Linked DNA regions of Homo sapiens. The protein of the gene in region 3 interacts with the protein of the main gene of each other region in a pairwise test. Each region holds a gene or a part of one and is shown on either strand. Other genes may lie near its edges. The genes, in order: UBXN6, MEOX1, UBXN2B, PAX6, CRX and MEOX2.

Region 1 (5,600 bases), on a different chromosome or scaffold from region 3:
TACTTCACCTGTCCGCTCACTGGGGCCACCCTGAGGAAGGACCAGCGGGACGCCTGCATCAAGGAGGCCATTCTCTTGGTGAGTGGCACCCTGTGTGCTCCTGCCCCAACCTGTAGCTTCCTGTGCCTGAGCCACCCTCCATCGGAAGCCCAGGTGGTACAGATCCCTCCCAGAGTCCCCAGAGGCCACTGCTAGTAGTGAAGCCCCTCCTCTGATACCCCAAATCCAGGCACACCATTGTGTATGCATCTGTATCTCCTCTCTCCCAACTAGGTGTCTTTTTTTTTTTTTTTGAGATGGAGTCTCACTCTGACACCCAGGCTGGAGTGCAGTGGCGCATTCTCGGCTCACTACAACCTCCGCCTCCTGGATTCAAACGATTCTCGTGCCTCAGCCTCTCAAGTAGCTGGGATTACAGGCACCTGCCACCATGCCTGGCTAATTTTTGTATTTTTAGTAGAGATGGGGTTTCACCATGTTGGCCAGGCTGGTCTCGAACTTTTGCCTCAAGTGATCAACCCGCCTCAGCCTCCCAAAGTGCTAGGATTACAGACGTGAGCCACCACGCGTGGCCTGGTTGTTTTTCATAAAAGGTTAAGTATTATTTGCTTCAATACAGAAAGAACTTCCTACAAAATTAGCCAGGCATGGTGGCACATGCCTGTAATCCCAGCTACTCGGGAGGCTGAGGCAAGAGAATTGCTTGAATCCAGGAGGCAGAGGTTGTGGTGAGCCGAGATAGCGCCATTGCACTCCAACCTGGGCAACAAGAGCAAAACTCCATCTCAAAAAATAAAAACGTCCACAGCATTTTTTTCCAATACAGCAAGTCCTCACTTAACACCATCAATAGGTTCTCAGAAACTTCGGCTTTAGCCTGGGCAACATGGCAAAACCCTGTCTCTGCCAAAAACAAAAAAAAATAGCTGGGCATGGTGGCGTGCACCTGCAGTCCCTGCTACTCAGAAGGCTGAGGTGGGAGGATTGCTTCAGCCTGGGAGGTAGAGGCTGCAGTGAGCTGTAATCATGCCACTGCACACCAGCCTGGGTGACAAGTGAGACCCTTTCTCAGAAAATAGTAAGTGGCTGGGCGCGGTGGCTCTTGCCTGTAATTCCAGTGCTTTGGGAGGCTGAGGCAGGTGGATCACCTGAGGTCAGAAGTTCCAAGACCAGCCTGGTCAACATAGTGAAACCCCCTATCTACTAAATATACAAAAATTAGCCAGGCGTGGTGACAGGCGCCTGTAATCCCAGCTACTCAGGAGACTGAGGCAGGAGAATCGCTTGAACCTGGGAGGTGGAGGTTGCAGTGAGCCCAGATCACGCCATTGAGCTCCAGCGTGGACACTGGGTGACAAGAGCGAAACTTCATCTTAAAAACAAAACAAAACAAAATAGTAATAGTTCCATAGACTCTCCAGACTCACACCCACTCCAGCAGTGTGTGCAAAAGCACCCGTGTCCCCATCCTCTCACCATACTGTAAATCACCAAACTTTGATCTTTACGCCTGTTGGTAGGTGAAAATAACATCTCAGGATAGAGTTAATTTGCACTTTCCTTATTTTGGATTGGCCATGTTTCATATGAGAATGCGTCCTTTCTACATTATTTAGTAGATAGTTTGTCTTTTTATTAGTGATTTGTAGGCACTCTTTTTTTTTTTTTTTTTTTTTTTTTTTTGAGACAGAGTCTCGCTCTGTCGCCCAGGCTGGAGTGCAGTGGCGCCATCTCTGCTCACTGCAAGCTCCGCCTACGAGGTTCACACCATTCTCCTGCCTCAGCCTCCCGAGTAGCTGGGACCACAGGCGAACCGCCACCACGCCCAGCTGATTCTTTGTATTTTTAGTAGAGACGGGGTTTCACCATGTTAGCCAGGATGGTCTCGATCTCCTGACCTCGTGATCCGCCCGCCTCGGCCTCCCAAAGTGCTGGGATTACAGGCGGGAGCCACCGTGCCCGGCAGCACTCTTTACATATTAGGCAATTTAGGCTTTTGCCTATGATATGAGTTGCACATGTTTCCCTCTAGTTGCTTCTATGTTGGCTCTGCTTATGGTCACTTTGCTGTGTAGGATTTTTTGATCTCTGTATAATTAAATGTGTCAGTTTTAGTTCATGGCTTTTGGGTTTGGGGTCATTCTTAGAAATGCCTTCCCCATTTCCATGCTGAGAGAATTCTTTTGTGGCCTCTCCAGTGCTTTTTTTTTTTTTTTTTTTGAGACAGAGTCTTGCTGTCACCAGGCTGGAGTGCAGTGGTGCAATCTCAGCTCACTGCAACCTCTGCTTCCCGGGTTCAAGCAATTCACCTGCCTCAGCCTCCCAAGTAGCTGGGACTACAGGTGCACGCCACCACACCCGGGCTAACTTTTGTATTTTAGAGATGAGGTTTCACCATGTTGGCCGGGATGGTCTCGCTCTCCTAATCTCGTGATCCGACCGCCTCGGCCTCCCAAAGTGCTGGGATTCCAGGCATGAGCCACCGTGCCCGGCCTCCAGAGCTTTTCTTCTGGCTTCTCCTTGACTGCTTGCTTGTTTCCATGGTTGAAGCTTTGATCCAGCTGGAGCATGTTATTATGTAACATGGTGGGATGGAGCTGATGTAATTTTTTTTTTAGATCTTGGCTCAGCTTTCTTCTCAGCCCCACCTGTCGAGAGCACCTGTCTTTTGCTTACAGCTGTGAAATCCCACCTTTCTCACAAAGTACATTCCTGTATGGATTTGGACCCCTTCCTGGCTGCTGTTCCTTCGTCCCTTGTCTGTGCATGTACCCAGCTCCTGACCTAAGCCTGGCAGCCAGTCGCCCAAAACGCCCGAGGCCCGCTTTTGGAGCTGACACGCTTCCCTTGGCTGGTGTGCTGTCCCGGGCGCTCTGATCCCAAGGAAGCTGTTGTCTTGGGGACATGCCCATCTGGCAGCTCTGCCTCTCTGCATCCACGTGCTCTGTCCCGCTCCCCACATCATCTCAGCAACTAAACCGGCAGACTGGGCCGGGTCCCAATTTTCAGTTGGCATGAGCCCCGGCTCAGTGTGTAGGTCATTGGTCCGTGTGACGCAGGGGGCTGCTGAGGGACCCTGCTGTGCAGTTGAGGGTGGGGGGTGGTGGGTGGAGCTCTGGGCTGCCTGGGCAGGTGGCCCGAATCCTGACACATGGCCCTGGGCTGCCCTTCTGTTCACCCGCCCTCGTCTGGGCAGCCCAGGGAGGTGCGGGTGGCAGCCCTGCTTCCCAGGCCATGGGTGGCTCTCTGGGTGTGGCCGTGTGTGATGGCTGTGCCGAGCGTGGATTTGTGCCCCAATCTTTTCCAGGTCTTAGGGTACGTACTGTTCTCAGCCTCTCCATGCTGGGACGCTGTTCGCAGTCAGCAGGGCTGGTTCTGGGAAACCCCCAGAGTTCCAGCTATGACTTCTCCCCTCCCCCGGTAACATAGGTGGATAGGTGGGACCTCGGGGAGGGGCAGGGGCTGGGGGTATCCGTCTTCCAGCTATTGAGTTTCAGACATTGAGGGTTGCAGACTCATTTGTGTCCTCTCTGCCACCTGCCATCCCTGTGACCCTGGACGATGGGCCTCTCGGTCTCTTTGTAAACATGAGGCCCGGGAGTGGTTCCAGAACGTCCATCATGGGGCTGCGAGAGCAGGAGGGATGGGGCGTCCATGGTGGCGGGAGGTTCTGTAAGTGGCGGTGGCCTTGATGGATCTCAGCACTGAGGTCGAGTTCTAAAGCCAGAGTGTGAGGCACAGTTCTGTCGCGTCACACTGGCTTCCAAGTCCCATGGATCTAGCCTTGAGAAGGCGGAAGGGGAGACTTGAGTTCTGCTGGGTCTTGGCTGCGTCGCCTCTGCCCTGGGGCGTGGGCAGGGCTGCGGTCTTGGAGGGTCTCTCTTTTCCTTTCTGTGATGAGCGCACAGCTGGGGCCGCTCCAAGCCGCTGTTCTGCCTTCCTTTTCCTGCCCCTGTTACCTGGGCAGCGGAGGGCCGTGCGGCCCGGGCTCTCAGTGAGTGGCTTTCCCTGCTTCCCTCCTCCCAGCACTTCTCCACCGACCCAGTGGCCGCCTCCATCATGAAGATCTACACGTTCAACAAAGACCAGGACCGGGTGAAGCTGGGTGTGGACACCATTGCCAAGTGAGCGTGTGGCCCCTTTGCCCTGCCTGGCCCCTCCAGCTCATCCCAGCACCCCTCCCACTGGGGCTGTCACCCCCTCTGGCCCCCTCATTACCTGCTGAGGTGGGTTGGGAAGGAGCATAGGCCGAGAGTGAGGCAGCTCCACCCAGAGGCCTCAGGCAAAGGGCTGGGCCTCCTTGGGCCTCAGTTTACCCGTGTGCAAAATGAAGGTGTTGAAGGAATCAGGGGTTTCCCACCCTGGCTTCCTTGGGGAACATGTGGAGGAGGCAGGGTCCCACCCCACTCCCCGGGTCTCAGGATCGGGGGCAGGCCTGGAGGTCCACGCTGCCCGCCAACGCCGAGGGAGCACCCCGCAGGAGCCCCCTGCTGGCACTGCGGCCCTTCAGCTCTGGCTCTCCACTCTTCCGGCACTGTGGCTTCCCCACCGCTGTGGTTAATTGTGCCCTTCCAGGGCTGGTGGGACGGTGAGGGGTTCCGTGGGGCTCCTGCTGGCACCAGGGGTGGGCTCCATGGGGTGTCCGAGGTGTGCCTTCCACCCGGAGATGGTCTGCTGCCCTCGCGTCACTGGGCCGCTTCTTCCCTCTGACTAGAGGCCAAGTGTGGCTGAGCTGCTGTTACCTGGAGCAGGAGGCACAGAGGGGCCGGGTGGGCAGCCTGGGCTGTGCCCCACTCACCTTCTCCACCTACCCCAGGTACCTGGACAACATCCACCTGCACCCCGAGGAGGAGAAGTACCGGAAGATCAAGCTGCAGAACAAGGTGTTTCAGGTGGGCGTGCCTTCTGGCCCCCGGGGCCCAGGCTGGGGGTGGGGGCAGCTGGCCTGCAGGAGCCGGTGGTGGCCCACACCAGGCGGTGGGCTCCCTGGAGGAGCTAGCGAGAGTTGAGCCACAAGCAGTGAAGGGTTCGGCCAGTAGAAGGTAGCAGGACAAGATGGAGAGCAAGACTTTTATGCACCGGTCACCCCAAATCAACAAATTCTGCCTCTCCTCACCTGCATCCTTTTCCTCCTCTTCAGCTGGGCTTGTTTGGGAACATGTCGACTCTGGGGAGGTTTCTCATGCAAACCAGATGTCTGGTTCTTCTGGGGGAAAGGGCAGGGACTGGGGTCCTGGGCGGTGTTAGCCTCGCATCAGGCCCCAGCAGTGTCTGGCTCCTCAGCCTCACTCTTCGTGCCTGGTTGTGACTCTTTCCTCTGTGCAGAGCTGTTGGAGACTCCACAGCCCCCACCGTAGAAAAGCAGGTTTGCATCCAGCACTGAGGCACCCCCAGGGCTGGGCCCCATCCAGGGGTCGACAGCTGCTCCCAATAGCGAGAGCCGGGCCCCTGGACTGGGTGGGGTGTGGCCAGGCCATGGAGGAAGCCAGGGGCCCCCAGTGACGCCCATCTCCACCCCCAGGAGCGCATTAACTGCCTGGAAGGGACCCACGAGTTTTTTGAGGCCATTGGGTTCCAGAAGGTGTTGCTTCCCGCCCAGG
Region 2 (4,617 bases), on a different chromosome or scaffold from region 3:
TGTGTCTCTGTCATTTCCTTCCTTTTGAAGCATTTACTTTCCGAGTCGCCAGCTGGTTCCAAAGCTCCTCTCCCACCAGGCCAGGTGGTGTCCAGACCAGGAGGAGGCCTGGCTGACCTAGGAGAACAGCGGTAGGAGGAGGCATGGGTGGCAGCCAAGAGACGCTGAGAAGCAGTATCTCTGAAGCTGTTTCCAGATTCATCCGGCCCGGTAGGATCTCTGTCTGATTCCATGAGAGTGTGGGAGCAAAGGCCCTAGGGAAGAGGCTGCTAAGAGGCTGGACAGAACTTCCTAGAAAATCCTAAGACTCCCAGGAATGCTGGGCAGTTTCATATCCAAGAGTCAGGGAAAGATGTGGAGAGGCTGCCCTGGCTGGGGAAGGAAGAGGGTGAAGGTGGGATTGGGGTGGGGGTAGTTGGGTAGGGGGCTCAGTCCTTAGTCATTTTTCCTCCATGCAGAATCTCACTCTGAACTTGGAGAGGCTGTGGAGTCCCCATCCTCAGGGTCCTGCCCATTGGGGGAGATGGGCTGACCTCCCTTCACACGCTTCCACTTCATCCTTCGGTTCTGGAACCACACTTTGACCTGGGGGAGGAAGCAAAGGAGCCTGGTCACTCCAGGGCCGGTGTGACCTCCTCCCCATGTCAATGCTTAGGCTAGCCAGGGTGTAACTCCAGGGACCCCAGCTTGAAACCATCACTTACCACTCCCTACTCCCTCAAAGGCCCCAGGAACTAGGACCGAAGAGAGGACATACCAATCTGCCCAGAGGTCTGTCTTGTGGCTTCGGATAAAGCCCCAGACGGGGGAACATGTTCTAAAAGCACTCTGCATTGGCCCCACCCCCTTCACATGCCCTGCCCTGCCTGTGCCAGGTCCCCCTGCCCCCTACCTCCATTCCCCAAGGGTCTGGGAGCAGAGGTCATCAGCCTTATCCTTAGGCACATTTATAGAGCACTTTTTGGTTTAGATAGCTCTGGTAAGCACATTTTCTCATCTGAGCTTGAGTATTACCTGCAGGATTATGATCCCATTTTACAGATGGAGACCCAGAGGTCCCAGGGCTAGGAAAAGTGATAGAGGCAGGATTTGAATCTAAGTCTTCTGATTCAATATCCAGCCCTCTGGCAGAGTGCTCTGTCAACTGAAATCTGCTATCAAATATTACGGTTATTATTACTATTATTCCGTATCAGAGCATGGGTGTGGGGGTGTGGGGTGGCTGAAGGGAAAGTCCAAAACAAAGGGCCAGGGAAGTTTTTCTCAAAGTGTGCCCAGGAACCAGCTGCATATCCAGATCACCTGGAGAATGTACTAGAAATACAGATTCTCAGGCCCACTCATTATGGTAAAATCTCTCTCCGGACCTCCAGAATCCACATTTTGAACAAGTGCCTTGGGGGATTCCAACATATACTCAAATTTGGGAATAGCCAGACCGTAGGTCCCAACCTAGCTGCATGTGAGAATCACCTAGGGGGCCTTTGAAAAATTCTGAGGCCTGTATCCCATCCTAGGCCAATTAAAATCATCCCTAGGGGTGGAGCCCAGACATCAGCACTATTAAAATCTCCCCAGGGGCCGGGCGCAGTGGCTCACGCCTGTAATCCCAGCACTTTGGGAGGCCGAGGCGGGCGGATCACCTGAGGTCAGGAGTTTGAGACCATCCTGGCCAACATGGTGAAACCCCGCCTCTACTAAAAAAAAAAACAAAAATTAGCCGGGCGTGGTGGCGCACGCCAGTAGCCCAGCTACTTGGGAGGCTAAGGCAGGAGAATTGCTTGAACCCAGGAGGTGGAGGTTACAGTAAGATCGCGCCACTGCACTCCAGCCTGGGCGACAGAACGAGACTCCGTCTCAAAAAACAAAAAACAAAAAAACCCAAAACTCCCCAGGCTATTCTCAGGTGTGGCCACAGTTGAAAACCGCTGGACTGGCTGGAGGAAGAAAAAGGAGAAGGTCCAGGGAGGGGTGGTGGGAAAGGAGGGAAGGGAGGGAGATGAGAGAGCAAAGAAGAGGAGGGGCCCACCGGGGGCGCACCTGGCGCTCAGAGAGGTCCAGGTTTACCGCAATCTCATATCTGCGGAGCCGAGTCAGGTAGTTATGATGGGCAAACTCTGCCTCCAGCTCTCGCAGCTGCTCCTTGGTGAAGGCCGTCCTCTCCTTGCGGGCTTTGCTGCTGCCCTCCGGCTTCCCTCTGTTCTCCTGGTTGTCTGGGGAGAGAGGACCCCAAACAGGAAGACATGGGCTGAGGGAGACTCCATTCCCTTTCTTTTGCCCTTGAGCAACTAGGCAGTCTTTACCAGTCTCCCTTATTTTTACAGGATGCTGAGAAAAAAGCTACACTGTCCTTTTTATTCCTTCTGGTGTCTTACCCATATTAGAATTGGGAAGATTTTTTATTTTTGGTTTCCAATCTCAGGTACCTGCCTCCCACCCTCCCCCCACCCCAAACTTTCTTTTATTCCCAAAGCATAAGAAGCTACTCTTGGCTGTTTAATGACCTCTACTCCCCAGCCCACCCCCCAGCATGACATTACTGGTGGCCATAAGCTTGAGGGGTGAGATGCTCTAAAACAAAGCCTCAAACTATGGTCCCCAGATCAGCAGCATCAGCATTACCTGAGAGCTTGTTACAAATGCAAATCCTAGCCTCATTCCAGACCTACTAAGTCAGAAACTCTGGGGATGGCACTCAGCAATCTATTTTTACAAACCCTCCAGATGCGTCTGGTGCACAGTCAAGTCCGCTGCTCTAAGACCTCACCACTCAAAGGAGTGCCTGGGTGCCAGCAGCATCAGTAGCACCAGGGAGCTGTTCAGACCTGAAGGATCTCAGGCCTGCCCCAGACCTACCTACGGAATCAGAATCTGCCCCAGAGGGCCAAGTCTGGAAAGCCATCTGGAGCCCTCTGAAGCAGGCTGCATGTTAGATTCAGCGGGGCTCAGTCATAACTGCCAACAGGGTCAGGGGACACACTCTGTGCCAGGTGCTGTACCTGACATATATTAGCCTCTTATTCCTCAATAGCCCAACCAAGTGGTTCTAGTATTAGTATCACTTTATGGACCAGAAAACGAACACAGAGAAGTTAAGCAAATTGCCCAAGTTTATTCAGCCAGGGGGTGTGGGAGACAAGAATTAAATTCAGGCGATTTGACACACACATACTGTTCAAATGAAAAGTATGTAGGGGCCAGGCGCGGTGGCTCATCCCAGCACTTTGGGAGGCCAAGGCGGGCGGATCACGAGGTCAGGAGCTCGAGACCAGCCTGGCCAACATGGCGAAACCCCCGTCTCTACTAAAAATACAAAAAATTAGCTGGGCGCGGTGGCACGCCCCTGTAATCCCAACTACTTGGGAGGCTGAGGCAGGAGAATCGCTTGAACCCAGGAGGCGGAGGCTACAGTGAGCGGAGATCACGCCATTGCACTCCAGCCTGGGCGACAGAGCAAGACTACGTCTTGAAAAAAAAATTTAGGAAGGGCTTACAAACGGTAAAGTCCTGAACAAATAAAAGGGGCTGAATGGTTATCTCTTGAGCAGACGGGTGGGAGGCAGCTCTACCTTCACTTTAATGAATGGAGGTGGTGGGTGGAGAGGAGGTGGGAAGAAGACCACACACTTACACAATTAACTCGCAATGCATGCCACGTGGCCAGGGAATGGCTGCAGGAGCCCGGGGCTCTAACATTTAAAAGACGTTTGCTTCATTAATTATCTTTTTTTTTTTTTTTTTTTTTTTGAGATGGAGTCTCGCTCTGTCGCCAAGGCTAGAGTGCAGTGGTGCGATCTCGGCTCACTGCAAGCTCCGCCTCCCGGGTTCACACCATTCTCCTGCCTCCGCCTCCCGAGTAGCTGGGACTACAGGCGCCCGCCACCACGCCCGGCAAATTTTTTTGTATTTTTAGTAGAGACGACGTTTCACTGTGATAGCCAGGATGATCTCGATCTCCTGACCTCGTGATCTGCCCGCCTTGGCCTCCCAAAGTGCTGGGATTACAGGCGTGAGCCACTGCGCCCGGTCCATTTTCCTCATTTTATAGACATGGAGGCTGTGGCTCCGAGTGAGGTGCTTTACCGAAACCTGCGGCCCAACGTCCTGCTCCCTGAAAGACCCATCTCTGCCTTGCCGGCGAGGAGTGTTGGAAGGAGGGATCTTCTGTTTTCAGAGGCCGGGTCTAAGCTACCTGGGGGACTGGGCTGGGGAATTCAGACCCCCTAGTGTAAAGCAGAGAAGCCGCCTATGCAGTCGGCTAAGCAGCCGCATTGGGAGTGGGTGGCGAGGCAGGAACCCCACATTAACCCGGCGATCCACTTTGGAGCTTTGAGCCTAGCTGGTTCCCCTCCCAGCACCCCCCTCTATTGCTTTCCACTCAATCCCTTTGTATTTCAGTTTCCCCGTCCTCCGCCTCCGCGCCCCACTGCCTTGGGCTGGGCGACTCTCTAGCAGGAGGCGCACGGTAAAGTGATTTGGGCGCCTGGCCCACCTCGCGCTGCGCGTCCGTGGCCTCCGCCGGGGGATGGAAGGGGAGTGGGTGCCACCGTTCCGGGAACTCGAGAAGGCGGGGGAGGGGCCCGATAGTCCCGGTGCCCGGGTCAGGGGTGTCGTGGC
Region 3 (5,600 bases):
AAGAGAAAAAACTTCAAGACTATCAAAAATTCCTTAAGATGACTGAGAAAATTGAGCTAAATTTATTTGAATTATTTAACCAAAAGAGCACTCCTCTATTTTTGACATTCACTTTTGGCATATACTGGCTGATCATCCTGCTAGTGTTAGAAGGGGCTAAGACAGCAATGCCAGGGTCACTAGTAACCAAGTTCTAATGGTAAGATATTCTATCAAGCTTCATTATGAATTTATTGTCATGTAATAACATTTTATTCCTCAATGGTACTTAGAAGTTATTTCTCTTTTGCAAAGCAGTGCTTGAATCAGATGTGTTTAAATGATATTAACCAAGTCCAAATTAAATGAATTTAGTGCTGATAATATGTTCACAATAGCTGGCACCCGTTGAAACACTGTGTTCTAGGCACAATATTAAGGACTTACTGGTATAATATACCTTCATAACATAGTATTATTCCCTCACTTTATAAATGATAGAACTGGGATTCAAAATGATTGATGTACTTACTCAACTTTACACAGTTGACATGGCTGGGATGTGAAACCATGTCTGTCTGTGCTCTTAATGATTCTTTGACCCTAACTCAGAGTTGCTCGTATTTCTAAATAAAACTGGTTTGCTAAACAGTGATGAAGTTGCAAACAGTTAAATGAGGAAAGGATGCAAAGTTAGGCTTTTATGAGAGATTAGATAAACCAAATAAGAATCGTAGGATCCAAAATAACTTTAATATAATGAAAGAGGTTGAAAGAAGTATAGGAGACTCAAATGAAGCCATGTTCTAAGTGTTTATCGCTGTCTTCAGTTTGTCATATATTTTACACATTCAGATTTGTGTTTAATTCCTCTTTTTTAGCCTTACACCTGAAATAGTCAGTACACCTTCCTCTCCAGAAGAGGAGGATAAATCAATACTTAATGCAGTTGTTCTTATTGATGATTCAGTGCCAACAACAAAAATTCAAATCAGGTTAGCAGATGGGAGTCGTTTGATACAAAGATTCAATAGTACACACAGGTAAGCTTCTTTACCAACAGTGTCCTGTTTGCTGTTATATACACTGGATTGCTTATCTAAGTAGAACTGTATGTGACTTGAGTAATGAAGAATATGATATTCTTTAGGTTTACTTTTGAAGTAAGTTTTTGACAGAAGAAACATTTTTAAAAGGACAATAGCTGTGTTTAAGAAATGAAATATGTGGTATTTAAACAGTCTCTATAAACTATCCAAATACTAATGTGATCTCAGATATCACACAAAAATAAATTAAGAACTATAGTTTTACGTTGTTACTAAAACTATATGAAGTCGAATCAGATTTAATTTAACATAGTAAAACCTTTTGGGGACTTTATTCATTTAAAAATTTGTGATAATTTTGATTGGGATTAATTTTCTGTATAGCAAATACTTCATAATATAAATGTGTATTGTAAATCAAGTTTAATTGTACTTTTGTCAAGAACTTCAGATAGTTTTAAATGTTTCTTTAATATTGACTTGTACATCAACATTTGATTTGTCCATTGAAGTAAGACCCTAATAGATATATTTATGATTTTGGTTGAATTACTATGTTTATGTGAGAGTAATTTTTTAAAATTATTCCTATGATAGCACATTTCATAGTTTTAGACTCACCTTGCCACAGGCCAATCATAGTTACCTTTTTCTGGGTCATATGCTGCTAACACATTTTATACTCCGAAAAAAGTACAACCTGCATTTTTTTTTTTTTTTTTTTTTTTTTTTTTTTTTTTTGAGACAGAGTCTTACTCTGTCTCCCAGGCTGGAGTGCAGTGGCGGAATCTCAGCCCACTACAAACTCCGCCTTCCAGATTCAAGCAATTCTCATGCTCAGCCTCTTGAGTAGCTGGGATTACAGACAGCCACCACCATGCCCAGCTAATTTTTTCTGGTTTTAGTAGAGACGGGGTTTTCACCGTGTTAGCCAGGCTAATCTTGAACTCCTGGCCTCAAGTGATCTGCCCACCTCTGCCTCCCAAAGTGCTGGAATTACAGGCGTAAGCCACCGTGCCCAGCTGGACCTGCACTTTTAAAATAACAACATTAGTACACTTACTTTATTCATAACTTACCTGAAGATTGTTTCCATTTTACAGGAAAAGTAAATGTTAAGTACACACTAAAGTTACTTTACATTTTAACTGAAGCCTAAGATAAATCCTTCAATTGAAATACTATATATTAAAGAAAGTTACAACACCTTTATATAAAGATTAAAATTTTGTGATTTTTATTATGATTCAGTTTTAAGTTTACATGAAAATATGATTTTTTATATTACAAATTATTTTTGTCTTATTTCTTCAGGATCCTGGATGTCCGGAACTTTATTGTACAGTCTCGTCCTGAATTTGCGGCTCTTGACTTTATTCTTGTGACTTCATTTCCGAATAAAGAGCTAACAGATGAAAGCCTGACACTGCTAGAAGCAGATATTCTTAACACTGTGTTACTCCAGCAACTAAAATAATATTGTTCCTGTCCATGCAGTAGCATGTGGGAATAGATGATGTGCCGTATTAATAAGGACAATACTTCAGCATTAAAAACAGCCAAATTATTTTTATTATTTTTACAGATAAATTTTGGTTTTATTGTTATTCTGTCTTCCAATCTGAATATAGACAAATTTGGATTAGGAATAGACCTTGAGATAAGTATGTTTGAGTTTTTAGTTGAAGGACTGGCTTATGTTGATAGTTTTTGGATTTCTAGGCAAATGAGTTGTTACATGCTTAGTGTTAATGTAACAACATTTGTTTGCAGAGAAAAATGAACAAAACCCCTTTTTGATAAATGCATTTGGTAAAATTTGCACTAAAGTTTCTTGATGCAGCATTGACCAACAGCCATTAAGAAATCTTTTGATCAAATAAGTTGAAAATTTGTCTATAATATATACTGAAACGTGTCTTTTGATTTTGAAATTGTTTGATCATACAATAATTATTTCTCCTATTAAGATTTTACACATCCTTTTTACTTACTGATTTAGATATATTACTAGTATCAGAAACTACAGTTTTGCCTTGTATTTTACAGAATTATGACTGTTGTGAACTTAAACAGAAACACATAAAGGTCAGCAATTCTTTTTTTTTTTTTTTTTGATATGGAGTTTTGCTCTTGTTGCCCAGGCTGGAGTGCAATGGCATAATTTCTGCTCACCGCAACCTCCGCCTCCCAGGTTCAAAAGATTCTCCTGCCTTAGCCTCCCAAGTAGCTGGGATTACAGGCATGCGCCACCATGCCTGGCTAATTTTTGTACTTTTGCTAGAGACAGCGTTTCTCTGTGTTGATCAGGCTGGTCTCGAACTCCGAACCTCAGGTGATCCACCCACCTCAGCCTCCCAAAGTGCTGGGATTACAGGCATGAGCCACCACGCCCAGCCTAAAGGTCAGCAGTTCTTAAGAAGATATGGTAAACAGCAACAATATTTTAAAATCAAGTAATTACAGTTCCTCCCAGAGCTTGCGTTGATCACATTCATTTATTCATTCAACACATTTTTCTAGGAAACTCACTGTATACACTAAACACTATTCTGTGTGCTCAACCTAGAATGTCTTCTCCAGAACAAGACTAGTGTAGAAATACAGGAATGTAAATTCTGTCAGACGGACTAGATCTAAAGAATTACCAGCATAAATGTTTGCATTTCTGCTGAAGCCAGAAGCTTTTCCTTCTTCCTAGACACCATTTCATCCTTAATTATTACTTCTGGTTAGTTTTCCATTGCCACCATAACAAGTTACAAAATGTGGCTTAAAATAGCACAAATTTATTATCTTCACAATTCTGTAGGTTAGGAGTCCAGGTTAAGAGTTTCGCGGTGCCAAGATCAATTTGTTGGCAGGGTTGCATTCTGTTAGGAGGCTCTACAGGAGAATCATTTCCTTGTCATTCCACCTTCTACAGGACATCCTCATTCCTTGGCTTGTGACCTCCTTCTTCCATCTTAAAAACCAGTGCTGTTTCATCTCTATGACCCTTCTGTTACCACATCTCTCTGACACCAGTGTGGAGAGGTTCTCTGCAGGACTCATGATTAAATGAGGCCCACCGGATATCCAATCTAGGCTTATCTCCTTGTCTTGAAATCCATAGTAACCTTAATTACATCTGCAAAATCTCTTTTACCATCTAAGGTTACATACAGGTTTGGAGATTAGGACATTAACATTTTACATGGAACATTATTCTTGCCTACTACAGTTCCCACCCACCCCCCGCTCCACTCCTGTGTTAAAGATTCAGATTCATCACAAATAAATTTACATCACTCATAGGTGCTCAAAAGTCACAATCCATTATTACAGCATCAACTCTAAATCCAAAATCTTATCTGAGTCTCACCAACTCAAAAGTCTCAAATCTCACATTGAAGCCATCTAAATTAAGTTTGGGAGAGGATCTGTGTGTGATTTCTGGGACATAATTCCAACTGTGCACTTGTGAACCTAGAAAACAAGTTATCTGTTCCCAAGTATGATGGCATGACAGGCAGACAATAATAGTTACACACGTTCCTGTTCAAAAAGCAGAAACAGATGGAAAAAGGAGCCATCAGCACCAATCAATTTACAAAACCAGCGAGGCACCCTTCTTTAAGTTTCAAGGCCTGGGAGTAATCTTCAGCTCACTGCTGTTCTCTGGGCTTGTTGACTGTCTCAGAGTCATCTTTACTTTTTCACAAAAGGTAGCACACGTTTGCAGCTGAGTATCAACTTATCAGTTTGTTCTTCTTTTATATTCTCTAAAGCTTTCTGTTAAAAATGGTGGTGCTTCTGCTGCTATAACGTTGTCAAGAAACTTGTGGGTCTTTTACATATGTCACAGGGATGCACTCATTTAGATAGGAGGCTCCTCACGTATCTTTCCTGGAAAATCCTGTCTCTGTTTTTGGCTTTTTCTGAAATAGCTGAGAGGATCTATGATTCACACCCTTAATATCTTCAAAGAGTCTTGTGTGTGACCTGATATTCAGACCTTTTGATGTTTCTGAAGTATTAGCAAAAGGTTATACAGCCATATCTTCATCACTTTCTCTAGAGTAAAGGCTGTCCTGACGGTGAATCTTAGTTTTAGTGGCTTTTGCCATTTGAATAGGCCGCGAATTTCCCAAATCATCAAGTCCTGGTTTCTTTATATTTAACAGGTCTTCCCTCAATCTACCTCTTTCCACATTTTACTATAATCAGCAAGAAGACAGCAGGCTGTACCTTCCACAGCTTGCTTGGAAATATCCTCAGCTAAATATTGAAGTCATCACTTAAAAGTTCTGCTTTACACATAACGGCAGGACACAACTCAGCTTAGCTTTTCGCCACTATGTAACAAGGACTCCTTTCCTCCACTTCTCCAGTAACATATTCCTCATTTTTTACCAACAGTCTATTCATGATGATTTAGATATTCTATGGCAATCGAGGTATTCTCTATTATGCTCCTTTCTTCAAGGCCGCCCTAGCATTAACATTCCATATTTCTACTAACAGTCTGTTTAAGGCAGTTTAGCTTCTTTTCTGGCATGCTCCTCAGAATTCTTCCAGCCTCCACCTACT
Region 4 (3,185 bases), on a different chromosome or scaffold from region 3:
AGAAAGGTCACTGAATGCCATTCCAAAGAAAATTTAACTTGGTTCTGGTGGGAAAGTTCTTCCAAGTACAGTCAACACTAGAAGCATTTTAAAGGGAATTGGTTGGAGGTAATGGGAGTGGGGAGGTGGGAACCAGTTTGATGCACAGTTTGGTCAACATATTTTGTGTAGTTCTGGCACAATATGGAAAATCAACTTACTCTTTCAGAGTTTGAGAGAACCCATTATCCAGATGTGTTTGCCCGAGAAAGACTAGCAGCCAAAATAGATCTACCTGAAGCAAGAATACAGGTACCGAGAGACTGTGCAGTTTCACACTTTGTGATTCATACCATTTGTCTTTCCTAGAGACAGAGGTGCTTGTACAGAGTACTATTTATTTATAGGACTAATATAATAAAAAGGTTCAGTCTGCTAAATGCTCTGCTGCCATGGGCGTGGGGAGGGCAGCAGTGGAGGTGCCAAGGTGGGGCTGGGCTCGACGTAGACACAGTGCTAACCTGTCCCACCTGATTTCCAGGTATGGTTTTCTAATCGAAGGGCCAAATGGAGAAGAGAAGAAAAACTGAGGAATCAGAGAAGACAGGCCAGCAACACACCTAGTCATATTCCTATCAGCAGTAGTTTCAGCACCAGTGTCTACCAACCAATTCCACAACCCACCACACCGGGTAATTTGAAATACTAATACTACGAATCAATGTCTTTAAACCTGTTTGCTCCGGGCTCTGACTCTCACTCTGACTACTGTCATTTCTCTTGCCCTCAGTTTCCTCCTTCACATCTGGCTCCATGTTGGGCCGAACAGACACAGCCCTCACAAACACCTACAGCGCTCTGCCGCCTATGCCCAGCTTCACCATGGCAAATAACCTGCCTATGCAAGTAAGTGCGGCTGGTGGTGGCCTGCATAACCCAGGCCCCAGAGAAGTGAGGAGTGGCTCAGGGCCTGCGGACCTCATTGGCTGTGTCTGCACCCTTGAGAGCTTTTCGCACTACAGTGATTGGCTTGACCAGTCAAGTCGGAGACAGTCAATCCCATCACTTTTAAGTGATTGACTCATTAATTCATGCCCTAAAAAAATGAGTAATAAAAATCTGTCCAGTTTTGTCAGGTTGATCTGCCTTTTATTATACTGTTACCTTGATAATGTTGGGTGGTGGTGGGGCATGTTTTGGGTACCAGGGAGCCTTGCACCAGAAAGTGGAAATAATGCTGGCACATTATCAGATAGCAGATTAGTAGTTTAAAATTTGGGTTTATATTAATGTGTTTGTATGCTAAATATAGAATCTGTGCACGCATTTGGGGCATTACTTTGGGTATATGTGATAAACTAGTGAGAAAGAAAAAAGGATCAGAAATGGGATTCATATTTACATGGTGAGATATACATAATATAATGAGAATGCTAGTTTTCTGTCTGTATCTACAATAAGAAAAGGCATAGCAGGTATTTGCTGGAAATTTAGTGTGTCTTTGCTGTGAATGGTGTGACGAGTTTGTGGCCCTCCTAGCTGCCTGGGAAGCTTGATGCTATTCACTTGGTATGACAGCCTGCCTCTCCTCTTAGTTCTGTCCCAAATATCTATTAGCCCCTACATTTAGAGGTCCTGCACTAGGTTCACCCTTTATGATGTAAGTTGGATAAGGCAGATGGTTTGTACTAGACCTTTGTTGCTGGATGGATTCTTGATAGGAAAAATGTCTGTCTTCTGGTAGGCCTTTCCCAGTGGTTTTCCTAGAACTCCTGTTTGTGCAACAATTAGAGATATTAGATGGTACGATATTGGCCAGCATGAGCCTCTGCTGGAAACAGTTCTGGGGCTACACTGATTGTTTATTCTCCATTGAACATTTTTTGCTGGATTTCAAATCCAAATAACAGCAAAATAAATGTTTCACAGTCTTCAGACTAATATAGGAGCAGCTAGATAAGCAACTTCAGAGGAATTATTCACATGTTTATTTTTATTGCATCTGGATATTGTTGGCCATAGTGCAATTGATGTAAATTAAGGGATTAACAGCCCATTAGTTGGTGTTGCTATAACTGCGTTGGAATTTTCCAGAAGTCAGGTTGCCTAGAGGAACTCATTGCAGGAATTAGAAACAAATGCAAGCTGAAATTCTGGCAGGCCCTCAAGGCCTGTTTGCCTCTTTGAACTTGATGTTAGCATTCATCATCTGACTTTAATAAGGCCACAGAGTGTCTCGTTCAGTTTCATGTATTATAACAACATCCAGGTTTCTGTGAAGATAGCAAAATGTGTATGTGAGAAAATAATAAGACGAACAAGTAGATGCTGCAATTATATTAGGGCTGTTTCCACATACAGAGCGGTATGGGGAATCAATCTATTTCAAACACTGACTTTTAAAAATTACATAATTTGTATAATTCAAAAAGTACATGCATTCATTAAGCATAAAGAAAATCAAAATGATCAATAACTTTACTCTTCAGAGAAAACTACTCTTTGAATTTTGGAGTGGGTGAGCCCGATTGTCTATCCATTTATTCATTCTCTTGACCAAAATCATCATTTTACAAATGGTGGGTGTCTTCCTCTGGACCTTCTCTGATATGCTTCCCTCTCTGAGCATATGGATTTTGGAAATTAAACATTTCTCCAGTTTGCAGAGAAGAGAAATGATAGTATACTGTACTATCATCTGACCTGCTTGTTCCCGACACACTTCTTTTAATTCATCCCAAGTTTGCTGCCATGGCATAGTACCATGAGAGCTCATGAGGCGTTTTGTTAGGAGAAAGGTTTACCTCCTCAGTGCTGCCATTCCGAACAGTTCGAGGGTAGCAACAGTTTTCTAGTTATAAGTCAGTCTGGGCTTTTGGGTCTGTTAGGAAGTCATGGTTAATTCTCAGGATGGAGGTCGTTATATTTACTAACACTTCTGATCACTTTAACTTGGGGTCATTACAGATCTGCTTCTTCAAAGAATCTTTAATCCCATCAGTGAAAGGTTCCCAAGGTCCCTGAACCATACTTTACTGAGAGCTCCTCCCACTGCTCTCTGTCCCAAAGCTTGAGATATGGGCTCTGGGGGTCATAGGGTTCCCAAATAAATCCAGATTTGCAGGGAGAGGGGATGTGTTTTGATGAAGGTCCTCATGCTATAGGTTCTTCAAAGATGCTAGCAGAGGTTAGAGACAAAAATCCTA
Region 5 (5,600 bases), on a different chromosome or scaffold from region 3:
TACAATAAAATAAAAATACAAAAATTAGCCAGGCATGGTGGTGCATGCCTGTAATCCCAGCTACTTGGGAAGCGGAGGCAGGAGACCCTCTGGAACCTGGGAGGTGGAGGTTGCAGTGAGCCGAGATTATGCCAGTGCACTCCAGCCTGGGAGGCAGAGTGAGACTCCATCTCAAAAATAATAAGTATTATAATTATGAATTAATAAACAAAATGAGGCATTGATTTTACTCATGTGTAGAATATACACTTGTATATGCGTAGAAAATTCCCAGGAAGGAAGCAAGCTACTGGCACCAGTGACTGCCTCTGGGAAGGAATGCTAAAGCCATATCTTGTCTCTATAGTTTGGATTACTTTTTAATTGTGTGTGTGTGTGTGTGTGTGTGTGTGTGTGTGTGTGTGTGTGTGTGTTCTTGTCAAAAGCAAAAACAACAATAAAATCTTCAAAAAAGCAAACAGAACATGAAAACCCTCTGAGGGTTCCTCATTGCCCTCATTAGGATGGACTCAGAAAACCTCTCACCCTCCACAGCTATTTGCATAAGCCGTTTCCTGGGCTAGGAACGCCTCTCCCCCACCCCAAAGCCCCTCTCACCAGCTAACCCCTTCTCCTCCACGTCTCAGCTCAGCTACTTTCCCCAGAGAAAGCAACCTACGCCCCTAAACTGGATTTTACACACACACACACACGCTCCCTACCTCCTTTTCTTCAAGACACAGCTTGTATTAAACGACATATTTATATGTTTGTTTATCTATCTCTCTCCCTCAAATTCTATCAGTTACCTGAGTTCAGGGACTGGTAATATCTCGGTTCCTGCCATGTCCCCAGCACCCCCAATAAATATTTGAAACATAAGAAAAAGAATTAAAAATGGATGGTGTTTATTGTGAGCTCCCACTCTTCCGTTCCTCTCACTGTCCTTTCCTTCTCATCCCTCACATGAGGAGGGGGACAGATTCTGTTTATTTTAAGTTGAGATTCTACTGTTCATTCAGTAAATATTTTTTGAATGCCTTCCCTGCTCTAGGAACTAGGAATATAGGAAGAAATAAGACCGCAGCTTCTCTGTTCTCATAGAATTGAACTTCTTGGTTCCGTTCCTAGAGAAACCAATAACAAACAAGGAAAAAAAAATTTTTTTTTTTTGAGATGAAGTCTCACTCTTGTCCCCCAGGCTGGAGTGCAATGGCTTGATCTCGGCTCACTGCAGCCTCTGCCTCCCAGGGTCAAGTGATTCTCCTGCCTCAGCCTCCCAAGTAGCTGAGACTACAGGGGCCTGCCACCATACCTGGCTAATTTTTGTATTTTTAGTAGAGATGGGGTTTCACCATGTTGGCCAGGCTGGTCTCGAACTCCTGACCTCATGTGATCCACCCGCCTCGGCCTCCCAAAGTGCTGGGATTACAGGCGTGAGCCACCACGCCCTGCCTTTTTTTTTTTTTTTTTTTTTTTTTTTTTTTTTTTAATAAAGATGCCATGGCCAGGAGCAGGGGCTCTTGCCTGTAATCCCAACACTTTGGGAGGCTGAGTTATGAGGATCACTTGAGGTCAGGAGTTTGAGATCAGCCTGGCCAACATGGTGAAACCCCATCTCTACTAAAATACAAAAATTAGCCAGACATGATGATGGGTGCCTGTAATCCCAACTACTTGAGAATCGCTTGAACCCGGGAGGCGGAGGTTGCAGTGAGCTGAGATGGCACTACTGCACTCCAGCCTGGGCAACAGAGCAAGACTCTGTCAAAAAAAAAAAAAAAAAAAAAGCCTTCAGAAAGTTTCAAGAACTCCCAGGAAAATAAAACAGGTTGTTATGAGAGTGAAGGCATTTGGGGTGGGTGAGGCATCTAGGAATTTGTGTGGATCTGGAATAGAGATTTCCAGGCAAAAAAAAAAAATTAAAAAAACAGCAGGTGCAAAGGCTTGGAGGCTGGAATCTCACACCGTCACCCTGAGCAAGACAGGGTCTCCAACTTGGTCTTGTTGGAGAAGAAACAAGGCACCCTGTGTGACCATAGCAGATTGATCATGGAGAAAAGCAGAAAGAACAAGTAAAACCTGGTAGGAATGTCACGAGAAGGCTCAGTGCTGACAATAAAATCAAAAGCAGCTACATTAAATCCCCAAAATCAAACTGCCTCCAAGGTAACTCCCAATAATCCTTACCCCCTGATATTCATGCCCTGTGTAGTCCCTACTAACAAGCTGGCTGACGTGTGTAACCAACAGGATATTGCAGAAATGACAGAGCGTGGCTTCCAAGGCTAGCTCTAAGGAAAGCCAGCCGCCATGTTGTGAGGATGCTCAAGCCATCCCACGGAGAGGTCTATGTGGCAAAGAAATGAGGCCTCCTGCCAACAGCTATGAGAGTAAGCTACCATGGAGGTTAGTTCCCCAGCCTCAGCCAAGCCATTAAGTGACTTCAGTCCTGGCCGACATCTGACCACAACCACATGGAACACCCTGAGCCGGAATAATCCAGTTAAGCCACTCTTGGATTCCTGTCCCTTGGAAACTATAAGAGATCAGAAATGTTTATTGTTTGAAGCTGCTCAATTTTAGGATAAGTGTTACCCAGCAATAGTTAACTAATACACAAGCCTTCTCTATACAGGTAGTCATTAAATCCCCAGCACAACCTTGGGAGGTAGAGACTGTATTACTATGATGCTTACATTTTGGTTTTGGTTTTGGTCTTAGGGACAGCATGTCACTCTGTCACCCAGGCTGGAGTGCAGTGGCACAATCATAGCTCACTGCAGCCTCGACCTCCTGAGCTCAAGCCATCCTCCCACCTCAGCCTCCCAAGTAGCTGGGACTACAGGTGTGCCACAACGCCTAGCTAATTTTTTAAATTTTTGTGTAGAGAGAGGTGTCTTGCCATGTTGCCCAGGCTGGTCTTGAACTCCTGGCCTGAGCAGATCCTCCTGCCTCAGCCTCCCAAATTGCTGAGATTACAGGCATGAGACACTGCTTTTGCCTGATGCTTACAGTTTAGAGAACATCTTCAGGCTCGAAAGTGTGACTTACCCGGGATCACACACAGGCTGGCAGTGGAGAATCCAGGATTTCAAGGCTAGAGTAATTCCTGAAGGTCCTATTCCCCCAGCCCCCTAACCTGGGTTCCCTCTGTCCTCTCCCACTTCTCCAAAAACCAATAATGTTAAATATGAACCTCCAGAGAGTGGAGACAAGGAAACTGGTGAACCTGCCCCACTGGGGACCATTTGCAGGGCCTGGAACAAAAGCACACACTTTCATTGTCTTCGCCGTCAAATCTGAGTCAGATTGCCTGGCTAAGCAGTTAACCTTCCAGGAAAGCCAAGAAAGCTCACATTTACGATCACCACTTTCTGGGTTTTTGTTTTTGTTGTTGTTGTTATTTTGAGACGGAGTCTCTGTCACCCATGCTGGAGTGCAGTGGCGCAATCTTGGCTCACTGCAACCTCCACCTCCCGGATTCAAGCGATTCTTCTGCCTCAGCCTCCCAACCTGGGACAACAGGCATGTGCCATCATGCCTGGCTAATTTTTTTTTTGTATTTTTAGTAGAGATTGGGTTTCTCCATGTTGGCCAGGCTGGTCTCAAACTTCTGACCTCAGGTGATCCGCCCACCTCGGCCTCCCTAAGTGCTGGAATCACAGGCGTGGGCCACAGTGCCTGGCCAGGATCATCCCTTTTAACGGATAGGGGAGAGGAGGCTCAGCAGGAGGAAAGTGTGGGCCCCAGATCAAACAGCTGATAATAATGATAAAGTGCTGCCTAGACAAGATGTCAGCAGAGAATAATAACAATAATAATATTGAACATCCACTGAAATCTTTCCCTGGGTTTGGCAGCAACCTGAGGCAGCTGATGACAGAAGGGCCTCCAGTGAGGGCTGGGCGTGGTGGCACGTACCTGTAATCCCAGCACTCTGGGAGGCTGAGGTGGGAAGATCGCTTGAGCCCAGGAGTTGGAGGCTGCAGTGAGCTATGATCCAGCCACTGCACTCCAGCCTGGGCAACAGAGCAAGATCCTCTCTCAAAACAAAACAAAACAGGCCAGGCCAGTGGCTCAGCACTTTGGGAGGCTGAAGCAGGCGGATCACTTGAGGTCAGGAGTTCAAGGCCAGCCTGGCCAACGTGGTGAAACCCCGTCTACTAAAAATACAAAAATTAGCCGGGCATGGTGTTGTCCCAGCTTCTGGGGAGGCTGAGGTACAAAAATCTCTTGAACTCGGGAGGCGGAGGCTGCAGTGAGCTGAGATTGCACCACTGCATTCCAACCTGGGCGACAGAGCACGACTCCATCCCAAAAAAAAAAAAAAAAAATCAATCAATCGAAAGAGGACCTGTCTCCTGGGGAGGAAAAAAAAAAAAGAATGTCCAGGAATTCATCACTCGGCAGACACTTGGCCCAGGCTTTATATACAAGATCTCACAATGACAACAATTTCCAGACACTGATGTTTTATGATTTCAAGGGGTGGAACAAAGAATATCAGTGTCTCTGCCCTGGGGATCAACCTGGGAGGCCCCAGGCTGATTCTCAGAGCTGTGGGGTTCGGCACTCACTGGGTCCCAGGTTCCCAGCTGAGCAGTTGTTCCCACAGGTGAGGTCTGAATGCTCACAGCCACCTGGTGGGGCAGACATGCAGATAACTCCATTCTACAGCGGGGGAGACTGAGCCTGGGAGGGAGGGAGGTGCCCACAGTTCAGGTGGCTGATGACCTTAAGGACCTCCAGGGGGCCCCAGCTTCTCACACACTGCATGCACCATGGACCTTGGGAACAAGATCTCAGGCAACAGTAACTCCATGGAAACTTCCTCCCAGGCGGCTTCTGGTATCATCCCCACTTTACAGAGAAGGAAACTGAGGCTGAGAGAAGTGTAGTCTCCAGTTCTGTCTCGCACGTCAGCGGCAGAGCCAGAGCTGGGCCAGCACCTGCCCCGGAGCCGGTGCCCTCCTGATCACCCGGCGATATGGCCTCTTAGGATGCTCCCCACAGCCCCACGGAGCTCAGAGGTCCCTTTCTCAGAGGAGGAAACTGAGGCTGAAAGAGGTTTCGTCAATTCCCGAGGTCACACAGGTGATGAGTGGAAGAACCAGGGGTAAAATTTAAATCTCTTTGGCCCCCGAGCCCCGCTCTTCACCCCCAAGTCTACCTAGGGACCCTAGAAACAGAATGAGGCTGGTCTCCTGCCCTGCTCCCACTGCAGGCCAGGCCTGCAATATGGCTCATCTGGCTGGATCATGGTGACAGCTTATCATTGTCCCCACTTTGCAGAGGAGGCAACCAAGGCCCAGAGAGCCCACATGAGGGGTCCAAGGCCACACAGTGAGAAAAGAACAAGATTTAAACGCAGACTCGGCCGGGTGTGGTGGCTCACGCCTGTAATCCCAGCACTTTGGGAGGCCGAGGCAGGTGGATCACCTGAGGTCAGGAGTTTGAGACCAGCCTGGCTAACAAGGTGAAACCCCATCTCTACTAAAAATACAAAAATAAGCCAGGCATGGTGGTGCACGCCTGTAATCCCAGATACTTGAGAGGCTGAGGCAGGAGAATCGCTTGAACCTGGGAGGTGGAGGTTGCACTGAGCTGAGGTCATGCCA
Region 6 (5,072 bases), on a different chromosome or scaffold from region 3:
TATAAAGGTTTATTATAAAATTATAATTAATAAGATAATGTGGTTTTATCAAAACTATAGAAAAATTAATAAAGGAACAGAACAGAATACAGCAATAAAGCTATGCATATATGGAAACTTGATTTATGAACACAGATGAAACAGTGATCACTGGAAAAAAGCTGGGTTATTTAATAAATGGACCTGGGACAATGTGTTATCCATTTAAAATAAAGTAAAGTTAAGCCTATTCTTCAGACTATATACTAAAATCAGTACTTCATTGATTAAGTACCTCAGTTTGAAAGGCAAACTTTTTTTTTCTTTTTGAGACAGGATCTTGCTCTGTTGCCCAGGCTGGAGTGCAGTGGTGCAACAACCACTGACTGCAACCTCAACCACTTGGGCTCAAGCAATCCTCCAACCCTAGCCTCCTGAGAAGCTGGGACTACAGGCACTATGCCATCCCACCCACCTAATTTTATTTTATTTTATTTTATTTTATTTTATTTTATTTTATTTTATTTTATTTTATTTTATCTATTTATTTGTAGAGACAGGGTCCCACTGTGTTGGAAAAGGCAACCTTTAAAACTCTTAGAAGAAGACACAATAGAATATCTTACTGGCTTCAGAAAATAGATTTTTTTAGAAAAAGAAAACACAAAACACTAGTCATAAAAGAAACAATAGATAAATTTAAACATATTAATTAATATTAAGAGTTTCTAATCATCAAAAGACACTCTAAGAAAAGGAAAAAGAAACAGCATACATTGAGAGAAGATAGATAGCAGCAGCCATATAACTGCAGTCTCCAGGGAAGTTCCCATGATATGCTTATCAGGACACAAATGCAAGAATGTCTATAGCAGCATTACATATAGAAAAAAAAGAATTCAAATATCCATGGATGGTAGAACAGAAAAATGGTGCTATATTGACAGAATTTGGAATATTATACAATGATAAAAAATAAATAAATAGAGTCTTTTGAATCAACAAAGATGTGGCAAAAAGCCTACACTTAGGAACATTCCATTGATAAACCTAACAAACAAATAAAATTAAAGAGTATAGTTTTAATATTACTTGTTATGAAAAAAATTTGTTTTCTTTTTTAAGAAAGACTTGGAGGTGACACACAAAATTCAGGCTTGTGGTACTTTTAGGTGGGGTAGACAGAGAAATACAATGTAAAAAGAACACTTTGCTTGCTAGAAGCTATAATTATGAGAAATGCAATGTGAAAGAAACAGATTTCCTCCTAAACAAGATGCAATAATGCCAATTATATTCTAGTTCTGATAATGTATAGACCTTTAATGTCTGTTTGCTGTTTTTTTTGTTTTTAATACATATATGTTATTTAAATATATATATTTATTTAAATGTATTAGGCAAATTCAATGAAGCTTTTAAAAAGAAAATACCTGTACAAAGCTGATGTGAATGATGTAGTATATAATCTTGGTGTTAGCATTTAACAAATGTTGAGAATTTTTTATTGTGACCATATTTTAAAGAAATCACTAGATCAAATATTTGCAAAGTAAAATAAATGAATTAAGGTAGAAAATAAAAAGAAGAGTTCAAAAGAAGATAGGCTCAGTGTGAGGTGGAATGGTCAAATAAAGATTTGTGAAAGCAGCAGTAGTTTCTGATGGCAGAGTATGGCCTTTCAGATGCCGCTTAATCAGTAGCTGCAGGAGCATGTTTTAAATTGGTTCAGGAAATGACAGCTGGATGTCAAATCAAAGAAGAACTTAGGAGTGGGGGGCTTTGACCAACACAAATATTATGTTAGCTCCAATTCACAGAAGCTCTTTATAGACGCAAGTGCTTTGAGTGCCTTAAATGACAAAGTTTTTGTTTAGTTCCATATTTTACATTGTATGCTGTAAAATACAAATATAGTACTTTGTATGCACCTTTTGAAACTTTAAAAATTATTATCATGAACATGTAACCTGATTAAATTCAACGTGGATTTATTTTTCTATTCACTCCTTCATGGTGTCTTTGTATAAGCCTTTGAGGAACTTCTTTTCATTGATGACACTAAGGAGAAAAAAATGTCACTTTAATTATCTCTTTTTTTCTGTTTGTTTGTTCCCTTTCTTGGTTGAAGGTGAAAGTCTGGTTCCAAAACAGGCGGATGAAGTGGAAGAGGGTAAAGGGTGGACAGCAAGGAGCTGCGGCTCGGGAAAAGGAACTGGTGAATGTGAAAAAGGGAACACTTCTCCCATCAGAGCTGTCGGGAATTGGTGCAGCCACCCTCCAGCAAACAGGGGACTCTATAGCAAATGAAGACAGTCACGACAGTGACCACAGCTCAGAGCATGCGCACTTATGATATAAACAGAGGACCAGCTCCATTCTCAGGAAAGAAATGTTGTGATGGCAAGCCTTACCCAAATATCGTTTACACAGAGAGATGACTATGGCAGTGATGTTTAATATTATTAAATCCAGGCATTTCGAATCTGTTTTTCATGATTTATAGAGGGTTTACACAAAGTGCCACTTATTAAAGAGCTTCCACAGTGAAGATGGAGAAGGTGAACTTGCTTTGAATATTCCAGATGTGTTTGGTCGTGCGTATGGCAGTGAGCAGGTATGTGTTTGCTTTTGCTTGCACTGAAAATTAAATTGCTATCAAGAGCAAACTATGAACGGTTTTTTATTCAAGATGTCTCCAGAGTGAAGATGCCGAGGATGAACTTGCATTGAACATTCCAGATGTGTGAGATCATGTGTATTACAGTGGGCAGGTATTTGCTTTTGCTTGCACTGAAAATTAAATTGCTATCAAGAATAAACCATGAAACATTTTATCCTGAACAGCCACAGTGCCTGAATTCACTCAAGTGGATAAAAAGTGTATTTTAACTCTGTATATATTACCCTTAAGTCATTTTCCTGTCTTCACTAATTTAGCAATGCATTCATATTAGCTGATGAAAATAGGCACTCACAATGACAACCAGAGCCAGTTTCTTGTCTTTTTTATACATTTTGTCATCCCAGAGACAATCAGTATGTGCTTACCTGTGTTCAAGTAGAGAAAAATACAGTAGAGTCTGATAGGACATATTCTTGTACCACAGACAAAACAAATCTTATGTTGCATTTACTATCAACTGCTGCTAATACGTTATTATAAAACTTACCTAGCTCCTGAATTCTTCCTATCTTATAGCTTAAAACAATTAGGATCATAGGCAAATCAGTTACCTTGCAGAAAGAGCTTTGTATGACAGACATTGTCTTATTTTATTTCTGTAAAATATTAGCTGTATGAATATGATTTAATTAACAAGAAAACATTTCTTCCTGATTGACAACAGTGTTAGACAAGGTGCAAAGCGAAACTGGTTGCTCAAGTTGATAGAAAACAAAATTCTGAATATCTTCAAATTAAATTCGGTAAAAACACATTATTTTTTCATATGTGATGTATTCATGCAGAACAACTATCTTTGTATTTTGTTTTTAAAATGTGTTTAATAAATGATCCTTTGTAAATAACTTTGGTCTCCCTACATTAATTTTCTTAATTTTTATAGATTTCAATATCAATGATTAACAAAGTCTCAAATCTATCTGCACTTGTGCAAATCCAGATGATTATAATTAGTGGATTATTTACATTTTTTCATTTCTGAATTTTTTTATTATGGCAGGAAAAAAATAAATCCTTGTGTAATCAAAGGGCGCCTAAGAATGGGCATATATTAAGCTATTTCTCTAATTTGAAGAATACAGTGAATGGATTTTTTTGTGTGTTTTATGAAGCCACAGATAAAAGTAGGAAAAAAGTATTAAATAATAGTATTCACCACAGTGAGGAAAATAAAATAGTCATACATTTTTAAAGTTATGTCTGATATATGTAAGTTAATCCAACAGTGGTTTTATAGTCTGAATATGCAGAGTCTCTGATGTGAAATATAAGCTAAAGAAGCTAATCAGAGTCCTCAGTTCTAATGGGACTAATGCAAGAAGTAAAGGATGCTATTAACATAATGTATTTTGCATCATGCATGATTGCACACGCATGGGGTGCCTTAGTCCTACTTATAGCTTTATCACATTGTTTTTCATTTGTTTCATATTCTAAGCAGAAATGCTTGGAAACATTGCCAGCCTTCCTCCCCTGCCTCAATCCGAAACAAATACAGAAAAACAATCAGTAAAAATTTCCAAAAACCCATCAGTTAATTGATTACACTTGCTTTAGAATGATCAGACTGACAAAAATTAATTTGATATATTTTAACTTAATCTAGCGTGATATATAGAGAGTATCCCAGAAATAAATAATTTTTTTGTATCACATTTTCCTTTCATGTAATACATTTTACCTCAGTAGTTGTCAGTATTTTAAAATTAACTGAGAATAGACCATTCGAATTGAGGTCTCCCAGGCATGAAACAGACACTTTTCCATTAATCACCTGAATTAATACAAAGTCTGCTTGTGCTGATGACATCTACTTGGGTGGACTGACTTTCTTACTGTAGAAGAGGATTTAAATTCAAAACATCTTGACAAATTAGTGAAGTGGGAAGATATGAATCAAATTGAGTTCAATAGGGACAAAGTGGAGGATAATTCATTTGGGCAGGAAAATAATTTCCAGAAATAAGAGAAAAGGACCCCTTAGAAGTAGCTAAAAGGAGAGCTAATGGTTGTAGCCAAATAGACGTAAGAATTCCAATGTAGTAAGAAAATGAAATAGGAAAAAGGGATTCCGAATAGATATAACATTCGGGAAATGGGAGGTTTTTGTATCATGGCCATATCTTTATTAGAGAATTGTAAGCAATCCTGAAATGAAATTTGATCCAGAGAACACAAAGTGGTAGGAAAGGCCACATGGCTGACTGAAAAGAGACATCACTTTCTTTATGATGAATTAAAATGATCTGCCTGCCGCATAAGACACCTGACACATTATCACATTGTCAACACACTGACAAACAGGGAAGCCAGAGTAATTTTTATTAGTGGAACTTGCCATCTTTTTAAAGTATTTCAGTATCCTCCTGTCTTCAAACTGATGCATAGGTTAGCTACATTATACCCC

Evidence for each region.
Region 1: the proteins of UBXN2B (region 3) and UBXN6 interact in binary tests that used the Homo sapiens proteins (3 or more experiments, as listed by UniProt).
Region 2: the proteins of UBXN2B (region 3) and MEOX1 interact in binary tests that used the Homo sapiens proteins (3 or more experiments, as listed by UniProt).
Region 4: the proteins of UBXN2B (region 3) and PAX6 interact in binary tests that used the Homo sapiens proteins (3 or more experiments, as listed by UniProt).
Region 5: the proteins of UBXN2B (region 3) and CRX interact in binary tests that used the Homo sapiens proteins (3 or more experiments, as listed by UniProt).
Region 6: the proteins of UBXN2B (region 3) and MEOX2 interact in a two-hybrid assay, tested with the Homo sapiens proteins (one large-scale study listed by BioGRID).

Annotation. Positions count from the first base shown.
Region 1 is NC_000019.10:4,446,842-4,452,441, reverse strand, and holds part of UBXN6 (UBX domain-containing protein 6), read left to right. Parts: coding exon 1-78; intron 79-1,611; exon of another isoform or gene 1,612-4,026; coding exon 4,027-4,124; exon of another isoform or gene 4,125-4,816; coding exon 4,817-4,892; exon of another isoform or gene 4,893-5,254; coding exon of another isoform or gene 5,255-5,337; exon of another isoform or gene 5,338-5,521; coding exon 5,522-5,600. UniProt on the Homo sapiens protein: May negatively regulate the ATPase activity of VCP, an ATP-driven segregase that associates with different cofactors to control a wide variety of cellular processes.
Region 2 is NC_000017.11:43,641,448-43,646,064, forward strand, and holds part of MEOX1 (homeobox protein MOX-1), read right to left. Parts: intron 2,214-4,617; coding exon 2,041-2,213; coding exon of another isoform or gene 2,030-2,040; intron 586-2,029; coding exon 463-585; 3' UTR 1-462. UniProt on the Homo sapiens protein: Mesodermal transcription factor that plays a key role in somitogenesis and is specifically required for sclerotome development. Required for maintenance of the sclerotome polarity and formation of the cranio-cervical joints.
Region 3 is NC_000008.11:58,445,047-58,450,646, forward strand, and holds part of UBXN2B (UBX domain-containing protein 2B), read left to right. Parts: intron 1-860; coding exon 861-1,022; intron 1,023-2,342; coding exon 2,343-2,505; 3' UTR 2,506-5,600. UniProt on the Homo sapiens protein: Adapter protein required for Golgi and endoplasmic reticulum biogenesis. Involved in Golgi and endoplasmic reticulum maintenance during interphase and in their reassembly at the end of mitosis.
Region 4 is NC_000011.10:31,791,138-31,794,322, reverse strand, and holds part of PAX6 (paired box protein Pax-6), read left to right. Parts: intron 1-208; coding exon 209-291; intron 292-520; coding exon 521-671; intron 672-769; coding exon 770-885; coding exon of another isoform or gene 886-1,059; exon of another isoform or gene 1,060-1,118; intron 1,119-3,185. UniProt on the Homo sapiens protein: Transcription factor with important functions in the development of the eye, nose, central nervous system and pancreas. Required for the differentiation of pancreatic islet alpha cells.
Region 5 is NC_000019.10:47,823,707-47,829,306, reverse strand, and holds part of CRX (cone-rod homeobox protein), read right to left. Parts: intron 1-5,600. UniProt on the Homo sapiens protein: Transcription factor that binds and transactivates the sequence 5'-TAATC[CA]-3' which is found upstream of several photoreceptor-specific genes, including the opsin genes.
Region 6 is NC_000007.14:15,609,650-15,614,721, reverse strand, and holds the end of MEOX2 (homeobox protein MOX-2), read left to right. Parts: intron 1-2,110; coding exon 2,111-2,335; 3' UTR 2,336-3,510; downstream 3,511-5,072. UniProt on the Homo sapiens protein: Mesodermal transcription factor that plays a key role in somitogenesis and somitogenesis and limb muscle differentiation. Required during limb development for normal appendicular muscle formation and for the normal regulation of myogenic genes.